Regions from separate parts of the Homo sapiens genome. Here region 2 is linked to region 1. Evidence: fine-mapped expression QTL. A gene starts in region 1. The other region holds a variant in brackets. All regions are shown on one strand. Distances are between the middles of the regions. Region 1 holds the start of LYPD6 (LY6/PLAUR domain containing 6). Region 2 has its middle 98 kb from the start of MMADHC-DT.

Evidence for each region. PIP is the estimated chance that this variant, and not a neighbour inherited with it, causes the effect. A credible set is the group of variants that fine-mapping cannot tell apart.
Region 2: its variant is the best candidate, but not a certain one, in a credible set for the expression of LYPD6 in tibial nerve (GTEx, PIP 0.83).

Annotation. Positions count from the first base shown.
Region 1 is chr2:149,327,277-149,332,655 of GRCh38, forward strand. LYPD6 (LY6/PLAUR domain containing 6) reads left to right here and starts at 3,311. Exons shown (of 5, transcript NM_194317.5): 1 at 3,311-3,446. MIR9899 (microRNA 9899) reads right to left here and starts at 3,097; the gene lies at 3,002-3,097. RefSeq lists a silencer at 2,928-3,397.
Region 2 is chr2:149,486,373-149,491,751 of GRCh38, forward strand. It overlaps a transcript of LYPD6 not described here. Among named protein-coding and RNA genes, the nearest start is that of MMADHC-DT, 98 kb to the right of the region's middle. The variant A/G (reference allele first, on the strand shown) is at 2,804.

The sequences.
Region 1 (5,379 bases):
ATGTGGTAGTGTCATCATGCCTATCTCAGTATGAAATTGTTCATGTGACTATTTGATCTAAAGTCTTTCTCTCCTACTCAGGTGATGGGTGCACTACAATCTGACTTCACCACTATACAATTCACCCATGCCAAAAACCACTCGTACTTCCAGAGCTATTGAAATAAAAATATACATTAATTTAAAAAATCAGAAAGGGCTGCTTTTAAAATAATCAATAAACAAGGCTGGGCATGGTGGCTCATGCCTGTAATCCTAGCACTTTGGGAGGCCAGGATGGGCAGATTACCTGAGGTCAGGAGTTCAAGACCAGCCTGGCCAAAATGGTGAAACCCCATCTCTACTAAAAATAAAAAAATTAGCTGGGCATCAACAACTCAGGAGGCTGAGACATGAGAATCACTGGAACCTGGAAGGCAGAGGTTGCAGTGAGCCAAGATTGTGCCACTGCACTCCAGCCTGGGTGACAGAGTGAGACTGTCTCAAAAACAAAAACATGAAACAATAACAACAAAAAATAATCAATAAACAGATCTGTAGTGAGAGCTGGGCAGGTTGGGAAGGTGCAGGGTGAGACCACCTATGGTAAATGTGAGCTGGCAGACTCAGCAGGGGTGAAACAGAGGATGGCACTCAGCCATGTTGGGCAGGGGTGAGAAGGAGAGGGCTTAAAATAAATAAATAAATAAAGTGCGTCTCTCTCTTCGTGCACTCCAGGAGTGTAAATACAATGTATGTTTTCTTCATCGCGTCACTTTGCTCCAGCCTGGGCAGCAGAGTGAGACTCCGTCAAAAAAAAAAAAAAAAAAAAAAAAAAAAGCTTGCTTCTGATGTACAGAAAGAAGGCGTTGCTTAATTCTGCCCCGGGCAGTTTCGAAGACTTGATTTTTAAAAAGGTGGTATTCGAAGTGAATCTTGAAGCAAAGATAGGAACTTGCTGTTGGGGCAGGAGAGAGTTGAGAAGGAAGAGAAGCACAGCATTCTAGCACTATGAAATCTTAGACATGGGTGTGTGAAGGTCCACGGACAGGCAGTTGTAGGTGGAGCAGAACCATCCTGCCTGCGGAACTGTGAGGACAGAAGATGAGACCAACGTGGAAAGCTGGGAACGGACTGGGAAGGAAACGCCTTGCCAACCAGGCTCCATTTGAACTTCCTCACAGTGGGGTTGGAACTGAAGAATTTTAAGCTTGAAAGTGACATGATTACATTAGTGATTCTGAAATAGAGAGGGCAGCGTGTGGTCGACTGGAGAGCAGAGCAGTGAAAGCCTGTTGCTGAAGCGCTGGTAAGGCATGATGAGGTCTGGCAGTGAAATAGAGATGCTGGGAGGGATGGATCTAGAAGTCATCCTAGGAGACAGAAACACAGGACTGGGCGATTGACAAGATGTGAAGGGAAAAGCAGAAGGAAGATTTAACATTTTCGCTCTTCTGATGCCTGAGGAGTGTTGTATGTTGGTAGTCAACATTTTAAAAAAATTTTTAAATTAATATTAATGTTCTTTAGAAAATACCGTAAAGTATAAAGAACAAGAAAACCATCCATTATCCCAACACGCAGAGATAACCACTGCAGACATTTCATATGCATATCTTTCCAGCCTTCTTTGAAAATATATTTCTGAAAAGAGATCCTAAGGGTTCCATCTCTACCAGGAACTCGGCTCTCATAAACTGCATTAATACGTTGAACTTCACTTTGAACCCAAATATGAATATTTTCACTAAACTATGCACCGATTTTTTTTAAATAAAGTGAATAAGTACATGGACCGGAACTGCCAACTGGAAACTAAATGAGTGTCAGCAGTGACACCCGGGACATGCCCTCATTAGTAGATGCTAACCCGCAGAGGTAACCTGCCTAGACACGGAGAGACATTTCCAAGTTCAGGTTGATTAATTCATATTCAATTCATTCACCCTGCTGAGCCCTGCAGGAAGACAGCGCGGCAGCGATCTCCACCTTGAGGGGGCGCTAATTATTTTTTGCCTACTTGAACCCTGAGCTTGGGCAAGCCTGTGCACATACACTAAGAGAAAAACTTTCTGAGGTCTAGCAGCTGTCGATCAAAAATAGGTTATCCTAGGCCCTTCCAAATAGAGGGACTGGGGAAGGAAGTTTAATTTAAAAAAGAGTAAGAATGTTTTTATGTTGGGATGGATAGATTATTGGGAAGGCAGGGTGATTCAGGAGAGGCCTGAAAAAATGCTCCAGGGGTAGAAAATCCAAGGAGAAGGTGGAGGGGTCTCAAAGATCGACAAATAGCCACATGGCGGGCCGCCCTTACGAAGGTAGCCTTGCAGGCCAAGTTCGGGGGGAGGTGGGGAGGCTGGTTCCGAGTTTCCGGGCATATCCGTGGAGTCCTTCCAGACCTTCCTGGGGACCTTCCCCGGTCACCCCGGCTCCCCGCCGGCCCCCCGCGCTGCTCAGGGGAGAGTAGGACTATGACCCACTTCCACTCTAAGGCTCTAGATCGAACCGTCCAGGGGGGTCAAACACGATTTACAACAAGGAAGAGAAAAACCAATACGTCCCAAGAGGGCTGCAGGGGCTTTAACTGGAGGAAGGGTTGGGCAGAGGGTGGCAGTATTATGCCCTGGACTTTTTTGCACCAAACCCATAACCGGATTCCCACTTCCTAAGACCTGCCTTCCTGGCTCTTCCCACCGCCTCCATGCTCCGCCCCGCAGCTTAGGTCTTTTACTGCAAACGTCAAGTGGTCTCCGCCTTCCCTGGGTTCGGAGCTTCACTTGCTCTTGAGCTCTGCGGTCCGGCGGATTTCGCGGGGCCCAGGGGATGGCGGGGAGTGAGATTTGGCCAGGGTCATTTCACACTGCCGGGCCTGCAGCCACGCACGCAGCTGCTGGCCCGGCTGAGGCTGGCGGCTAGGGAGAGGCGCCAGGGGGTCGCGCACAGGAAGGTATCGGTGCACCCTGAGCAAACACTGCTCGCTTCCAACGCTCACTGGGAACAGGCTTCCCGGGAAGGTCCCAAATCTCTCCAGTTCCGCTCACCCTGCGGGCGGGAGCGCGGCGCCCGGGTGCCCCACCTGCGCCGGGCGGTCGGCTCCCGCTGGCCGGAGTTTGCAGACTTGGCGCTCAGGCCGATTCTCCCGGAGTTGGGCCGCGCGCGCCGGGCCAATGAGCGCGCCCCGCGGAGGGCTCCGCTCCCCCCGCGCGCGCTGATTGGTCCCGCGGCCCTCGAGGCCGGGCCGGCCGCGGCTGCGGGCGGCGGCCAGTGCCCGGCGCGAGTGGGAGTGGCGCGCGCGCCCCTAGCCGCCCCCCGCCTCTCCCCGCTGCGCTCCCTCGCTCCTTCCCTGAGCTCCCGGGCTCCGGCAGCGGGCTGGCGGGGCGCCGCATTGCACACTCTGGGGGCGCCGCAGTGTTCGTGGGATGGGGCAGCGGGCTGCAGCTGGCGGCCGGAATCCGCGCGCAGCCCGGGTGAGTAGAGGCGGGCTTCCCGGGAGAGCACAAAAGAACAGGGGATTGGTGCCAGCGGCCCCGGCTTAGGCGGGGCCTGGCCAAGGCAGGGAGTGCGCTGAGTCCCTGGAACTACCCGATGCTAGGGCAGTCCCCTGGGGCCAGAGGAACTGGGGTCCCGGCCTCCGGCGTTTTGCCCCTAGTGGGCAGAGAGCCCCGCGAGTAGCCTGGACGGGTCCAGAGGGGCGTGTGTACTCGTGTGTGTTGGGCTGGCGCGTGGAGGGTGGGATGGAAAGGTCAGGAGCTGCCAAGTTCAAGGCTGGAGGAACCTTTCCCAGGAGTAATTCAGCATCTTCTCACGGCCCAACATGCGTCCACCAGGAACTCCAGCCGGAGGGAGTTCCTGGGCGGCGGACTGGCAGCACCCCACATGTTGCTGCGGGGCGGGGGGCAGTGGCGGTAGCCCGGCTGCGGCCACCCGGAGCCTCTAAGGGAGGTGCAGTGTGCTGGAGGTACCTCCCCGCCGCTGCAAGACCACGCTAGGCCTTTCAGCCATCCACCCCGACAACCCAGGGAAGGGACCATCCACCCACAGAGTTGGGATTTGGCCTGGGCTTGACTTGGCGACCTGTTTTTCTCTCCGGTAACAGCAGTTCCGTTGATTCACATTTGGCTAAGCGTTCAGTTACAACCTAAAGCTCACTATCTGACGGTCTGACTCGCTCTGACCCCCACCATATCCTCACTATCTCTACCGCTGCCCTCCTCCAGTCCCCTCTCCCGCCCCAGTATCTGCCCTGCTCCTCACTGCGGGGCTCAAAACTTGGTGTTTGAGCATGATTGCCTTCGGTGTGGTCCTTGGCATTTTCAAGTGTCACAATCACATCCCGTTTCCTAGAGGACTCCAAAGACTTGTTATAATGGGATCGGGGGAGAGAATTGGGTGGGGGGGAATGGAAGAGGGTCTTTGGTAGTCACTTGTTGGAAGAACAGCATTGACCTCCCAGAGCATATGACAAAAAGAATGTTAAGCTTCTTTCTATGGTAACCTACCCAAGGTGTGACCTCCAAAATTCAATTTTCTTTGTGGGAGGCAAGGGAGTTTAGATTCTCCAGGGGGAAGCTTATTTCTTGTTAAATTGACTTGCGGTGACATACACACTGTTCTGCTCTGCTCTGGCCAGCCATTGCAGATGCCATGATATTATTAGAGCAATTCCCTTAAAGCCATTACATTTTCTTTCGAGTGAGAGGAACTCGAGCTAGCTGTTTAAAATTTTGGATCTGCACCTTATTTCTCTAGAAGACATTAATGGTTACTGTATATGCGCTCACGTGTACCAAGTTTGCAAAAGGTATTTGTGCAATCGCCCATGAAATGGGTTAATGCACATTTATGTTAAACCCATTTAAATGTAAAACATCTATCTGTTTTCAATTTTAGTTTCCACCTCGACCAAAGGCACCAGACTGAAATAAGACTTAAAAGAGGCTTCCTTGTTTAAATAGAGGTTTATAGAACTCTAGTCCTGAGAGCACACAGTAAGCTTTCTGAGCTTGTAGGCACACAAAGCTTGTTAAAAATTGTGAAATGGTTCCTTGAGTTAGAAATAATGGAAATGCTTCCAGACCAATTAAGACAGACAATTGATGAAGCTACACTCTCAAGCTGTTGACAGTCTTTGTAAGGTGAATGTTTATAGTACATAATGCATAAATCGGGCTGATTCTAGGCAAATAATATCAAGTAAAAAACCATACCATGTGTTGTATCATACTGGATAGTTTATATGGCATATTGAAATCTACTATTAAAGTGTCTGAGGAAATCATATCTTTATCATCCCCATTTCACAGATGAAACAACTGAGGCTTTCAAAGATTGACTTTTCCAAGATCAATAGCAGAGTTCAGTCAAGTGTTTTTCAAATTCTTTCCTACCTCACCCGTTCCC
Region 2 (5,379 bases), 160 kb after region 1:
TCCACATTCACTCTTGTACTAACTCAAGTGTAGTCCTATAATCTTTCTGCAGTTCATTCGAATGTTTTTTGATGTGTTGATTAATTGTCTCACAAATATTCCTGTTTGAAAAGACAAATCTAGGTTCGGATTCAAGCTTCGCTAGTTAAAACACTCTCCCTAATCTTCTTCAATCTTCTGCTTGTAAAATGGGATAAATGAGCTTGTTGCGAGGGTCAGCCATCAGCAATGTAAGCCCATAGCATGTGCAGGTGCAGGCATGTGCGAGCATCAAATGAGCAGTCCTTTCTTGACGGGTGTGCTGGGCACTGTGCTGGCACTGGTGTGACAAAGACCATGACTTGGAATGCACCCCTAAGGGGCTCCGGTGCTTATCAGGCTCACCCTCTTTCTCTTTTTGTTTTGTAAACTGCCTTGAAAATTTACCAATATATCACATTTTTCTGTCAGCAAGTAGAACTGTAGGAAATAATTTTTAATGGTTGGTTAGTATTACATTTTATGATTGCGCCATAATTTATTTCATCATTTCCTCTTTCTTATTTTTTAGGTGTTTCTAGTTTTTTACTTTGAAAATCTTTTTATATAAAAGTAATGCATGAGCATTGAAATTTGAAATTGTTCTGTAGAAAAGTAAAACCATTCTCCCTTTCCACTCCATCTCTTCCCATTCTTCAGCAATAACTGCTATTAATAATTTCTTGAGTATACTTTTTAAATATTTTCTAATGCATATACAATTTTGCATGTATTTATATAATTATGTGAATGAATTCATATATACATGTAGAAAACAAGATCTGCAATATGCCTTTTAAAATTAGTACATATGGAACATCTTTTGCTGCTAGCACATGTAGATTCATTTTGTTTTCTAAGTGGCTGTATGTATTCCATTGTATAGATGGGCCATAATTTATTTAACTCATCCCCTACTTACTCAAATTCAGTGTGTTCTAAAAGTTGTGTCTAGATTTTGCTATTATAAACAATTATGCCATAAACATCTGTGCACCCTCTAGAGGTAACTGTGGGATAACTAATAGAAATGGAATTATTTTATGCGTTTATAGCTGTGTTCTATGTTACCAAGTTACCCTCTTGAAAGAGGTGCCAATTTAAGCTTATACCAACAGTGTATGAGAATGTCTGTATCTGCAAAGCCTCTCTAAACTTGGTATCCCATCAATATTTTATCTTTGAGATCTCTTTTTTTCTCATTTGGAAATATTAACAAGAATGTTTATGTTAACTCAGTGGAGAAAAGTCGGAGACATTTGGATAAGATGAGTTAATGCCCTTGCCCATTCTGGAATTATTTGGGAGGAAGGCTGCTCATGGGACAAGTCATTTTACCTTCCAGGAGAGATTCAACACTGGCCATTGACTATATGTGCAGCACACACTTCTTCTGAAGGCTTGAGGCATCTACCGTGTGACAGATCATGAATCAAATGACCTGCAAGCTTAGAGAGCCTTTCTCAGCCCTGCCACATGCAGCTATGTTGATGCTGATGTGACTGATTTTACTTCCTTCCCTTTATTCACCAACAGAGAGGTCGCTATCACACCACCAACTTCTGTTGCTTAGGTCCTGGCTTATGAAGAATAGACTCTGGGAGCACATTGGAAATCAACACTCTTGCCTTATGATGCAGGACAGATGCTGAAATTCTCTTAAGAGTAGCTTTATGATTATTTTCTTTGGAAACATGGATTAACTCACTTGCCATCTTCAGGCAGAAGAAAAACCTCATCCCCTCCCCACCCCACCCCATCCCTTTTAGATTCTGCAACTCTGTATTCTGAATTTTTGTTAAGAAAATCTACAAATTAGAAATATCATTTTAGGGACAATCAATATCAGGTTTCAATATAACAGCAACTGTTAAATAAGAGAAAATACCTACTTTCAAAGCCCGCATATCAATAAATAGTAATAATAAAGAAGTAGTAAAACTGGCTCAAGGAAACTAGCAGATTCAAATGAAAACTAGCAGATGATTCAAAACTAGCAGATTCAAATGACCAAATGTACACAGAAGCAGCAAGATTTCTATTGTTAAAATGTGACAAGGGACCTCAGAAATAATTAAACCAAACATCCTCAGTTCATTTGATAGAGGAGAACATGGATACACAAAGAGGAGATATGACTTATCCCAGGTCACATAGTAAGTTAGAGGCACTGTCGTGACCTATGATAATAGCAAATAAGAATGGCATGTTGAATTCTCAACAGCGTGTACATTTGGTATTGAAAGGGAATTATTTTTATGTACAGAATGCTCTTTTGTGAGCTGAAATAACGTCATGTATTGAATGCGCTAAAACCAAATGGATGCAATATCCAGTTTATTCTACATTTCCAGTGTTAATAGAGCATTTTAATCACTTTCTCTAGTCGAATTTCTTTCCTTCAGAGCAACACCCCTGCTGAGCACCATGTTTCCATGAAACGCTGTTGTTTTTTTCTCTGCAACTGTGAAACTCTTGTCTTGCTCCTCTGAAATAAGATAACCACAGGCAGGCTCTAGGCTACACCCACATTCTGGAAATATTTTATGAAAGGTTTTCCAACTTCCTAGAGAAGCTGCTGTTGTCGCTAATGGCAAAATCAACAGGGGGAAAAACACTTTAATTTGGGAAATTCTAGCACTTCCAACCAATGAGACTGGAAAGATAGGAAACAATCTGCTCTGCCCAAACAGCAAAGTTCTCCCTGGGAAGTTCAGTGGAACACGGCAGCTTGTCTTAGACTCAGAAAATTCTGGGTCTTTGGGATGAAAAAAAAAAAAATCAA[A/G]AGGCTTTTTGTCGGCTTGTGTACCAGAAACAGAACATTCACTACACGTGGGCTTGCAGAAGAAAAGAGGCCAACTCCGGGCACAGTTCCCTCCCACCTTCCACAGAAGCCGCTGAGCCGCACCCTGGTGCTTTCTGTGTGGGGCACAGTTTAGTTTATTATTATTATTAAACTCACTATCTGTCATCTTTCAGTAGGTTATGCCACGGTAGCCAACAACACTAAAAGCTTAGTGGCTTCAAAAAGAAAGGGTTTTTGTTGTTGTTGTTTTCCCTCCTTGCTCACACTATCAGCTGCAAGTTGGCACCATTGGTCTCCTTCATTCTGGAATTCAGGCTACAAGCGCAGCCTCTGTCTGGAGCATGCCATTCTCTTGATAGAGGGCAAAGAGAGCAAGATCGCTGTGGGGAAGCCACAATGCCTCTTAACACCTTCTGCTAGGAACACACACTTTCGCTTCCGGTCTCATTTCATTGGCCAAAGCAGGTCCCTTAGCCAAGCTGCTGTCAATACGGCAGCGCAGAGCAGCACACTCCCCCTCTCCTCCAACTGGGGACTCTGCAAGTCACGTGGCAGGGGCAAACCGAGTGGGGGAAGGGGCAGTGAACACTCGGGAACAACTGTGCTACCCACCATTCAGGTTAAGTCCCAGAAACGTTGCGCTCCTCAAAAATCAGAGGGGATGGGGCTCCTGCCTTTGACGTGTTCTGACCAACAGCTCTGAAGCCAAGGGGCATCAATATTAAGTCATGATTCTAAAAGTAGGGATGGGCTAAGGTCAAAGTTCATGGGAGGTGTGGTTTCACTCTATGCAACACGCATTACCCACCCGTCCCACCCTCGTCTTTTCCTCCTTACTGAAATAGGTAGGTTTGATGTGGTTTCTACGTTTTCCAAAATTGGACAAGATGGCAACAACAGAAAAATGTCAACAACAGAAAAATGTCTATTAGGATGTTTTCCATACGGCTGAGCCTTGGATTTTTTTTTATGAGGAAAAATGGTTTAAGTGGGTGATTTTGAGTGGTGGCTGTGAAAGAAAAATCCAATTTTGAATCATTTCTGAACCAATTTTCCCTACTTGTGTGTTTAGATAAAACAAGGAAAAAAAGCAAGACTGAAGATCAGCTGCTTTTTAAAAATGAAATGAGTCTACTTTTTTTTTTCTCATGAAAATCAGTTTTAGATGTTGATTCTGAAATGCAAGTCCAGCTCCAGCAAAGGGTTTTCAGTGGATGGTTTGTCTTGCCTTTTTTCCCGCTGGGATCTTCAGGCATTCAGTACCCTCATGCTGCCCTCTGCAGTACTCTGGGCCAGGAAGCTACAAAATTCAGCAAAAATGTAGGACACGTGTACTCAGGGCTAGGAACTATGCCAGCTGGAGCTGAAACGCTGGATCCCACACAGCCCCTCCCCTCAGAAGCCAGCAATCTCAGAGGGGAGACAAACAAGTAAACAAGAAATTATACTAGAGTGATGAATGCTGCAAGGTTGAGGTACAAAGAGAACTTTTCAAGTACAAAGGAGGGAAGTATAACTCACTTTTACAAAATAGGAAAGGCTTCCTAGAGAGGATGATTTATAAACTGAGAGATGAAGGATGAGGGGGAGCCAGCTAGGTGATAGGGAGGAGAGGAAATCCATTCTGGGACTCAGGCTGCACGCCCCTAAGTAGGAAGCAAAGGGTGAAGGGCTTTGTACTTTACTCGCGGCAGCATCCCTGACCACTGAGATAATGGGATGATGATGATGATGGTGATTGTTATCATTATTATTTTGAGACAGGGTCTTACACTGTCACCCAGGCTGGAGTGCAGAGGTGCGATCTCGGCTCACTGCAGCCTTGACATCCTGGGCTCAAGCAATCCTCCCACCTCAGCCTCCCGAGTAGATGCACCTGGGATTACAGGTGCATGCCACCATGGCTGGTTGGGTTTTTTTTTTTTTTTTTTTTTTTTTTTTTTGTGTGTGTGTGTGTGTGTGTACTTTTTCATAAAGACTGAGTTTCGCCGTGTTGTCCAGGCTGGTGAGCTTTTTATAATGGTGATTCTCATCCTGTTAACCTATCTCAGCTCCTGTTTTTGTGTTTTTTCAAAATTTTATAAACTGTTATAATTTATTTTTTATTTCGAATAACTAAAGATAAAAAAGTTTTTAAAAAGGATAAGATAAATACCCATGTACTTCCCATCCAGAATTAGCAAATATTAATATGTCATATTTCATTTGATTTTTAAAGAAGTAAACTATTACCAATAAATTGAGTTCTCTATCAGCCTTTCCCTGGTTTTTTCTTTTTATTCTTCTCTCCTCAGAGTGAAATGCTGTCATGAATTTTGTGAGTCAGGTTTTATATGTTTACTAAATATATATTAATAAACAACATTGTTTTGTGTAAGTAAATTTTACATAAATGATTTACTGTACATAATATTTTTCAAATTGAATGCTTCTCAACATGATGTTTTCAAGATCTACATATATACTGAGCTCCATTATATAAATATACCAGGATTAATTTGGCTGTACCACTGCTATGAAAATATGGGTTGTTATCAAGTTTGTTTTCTTTCTAG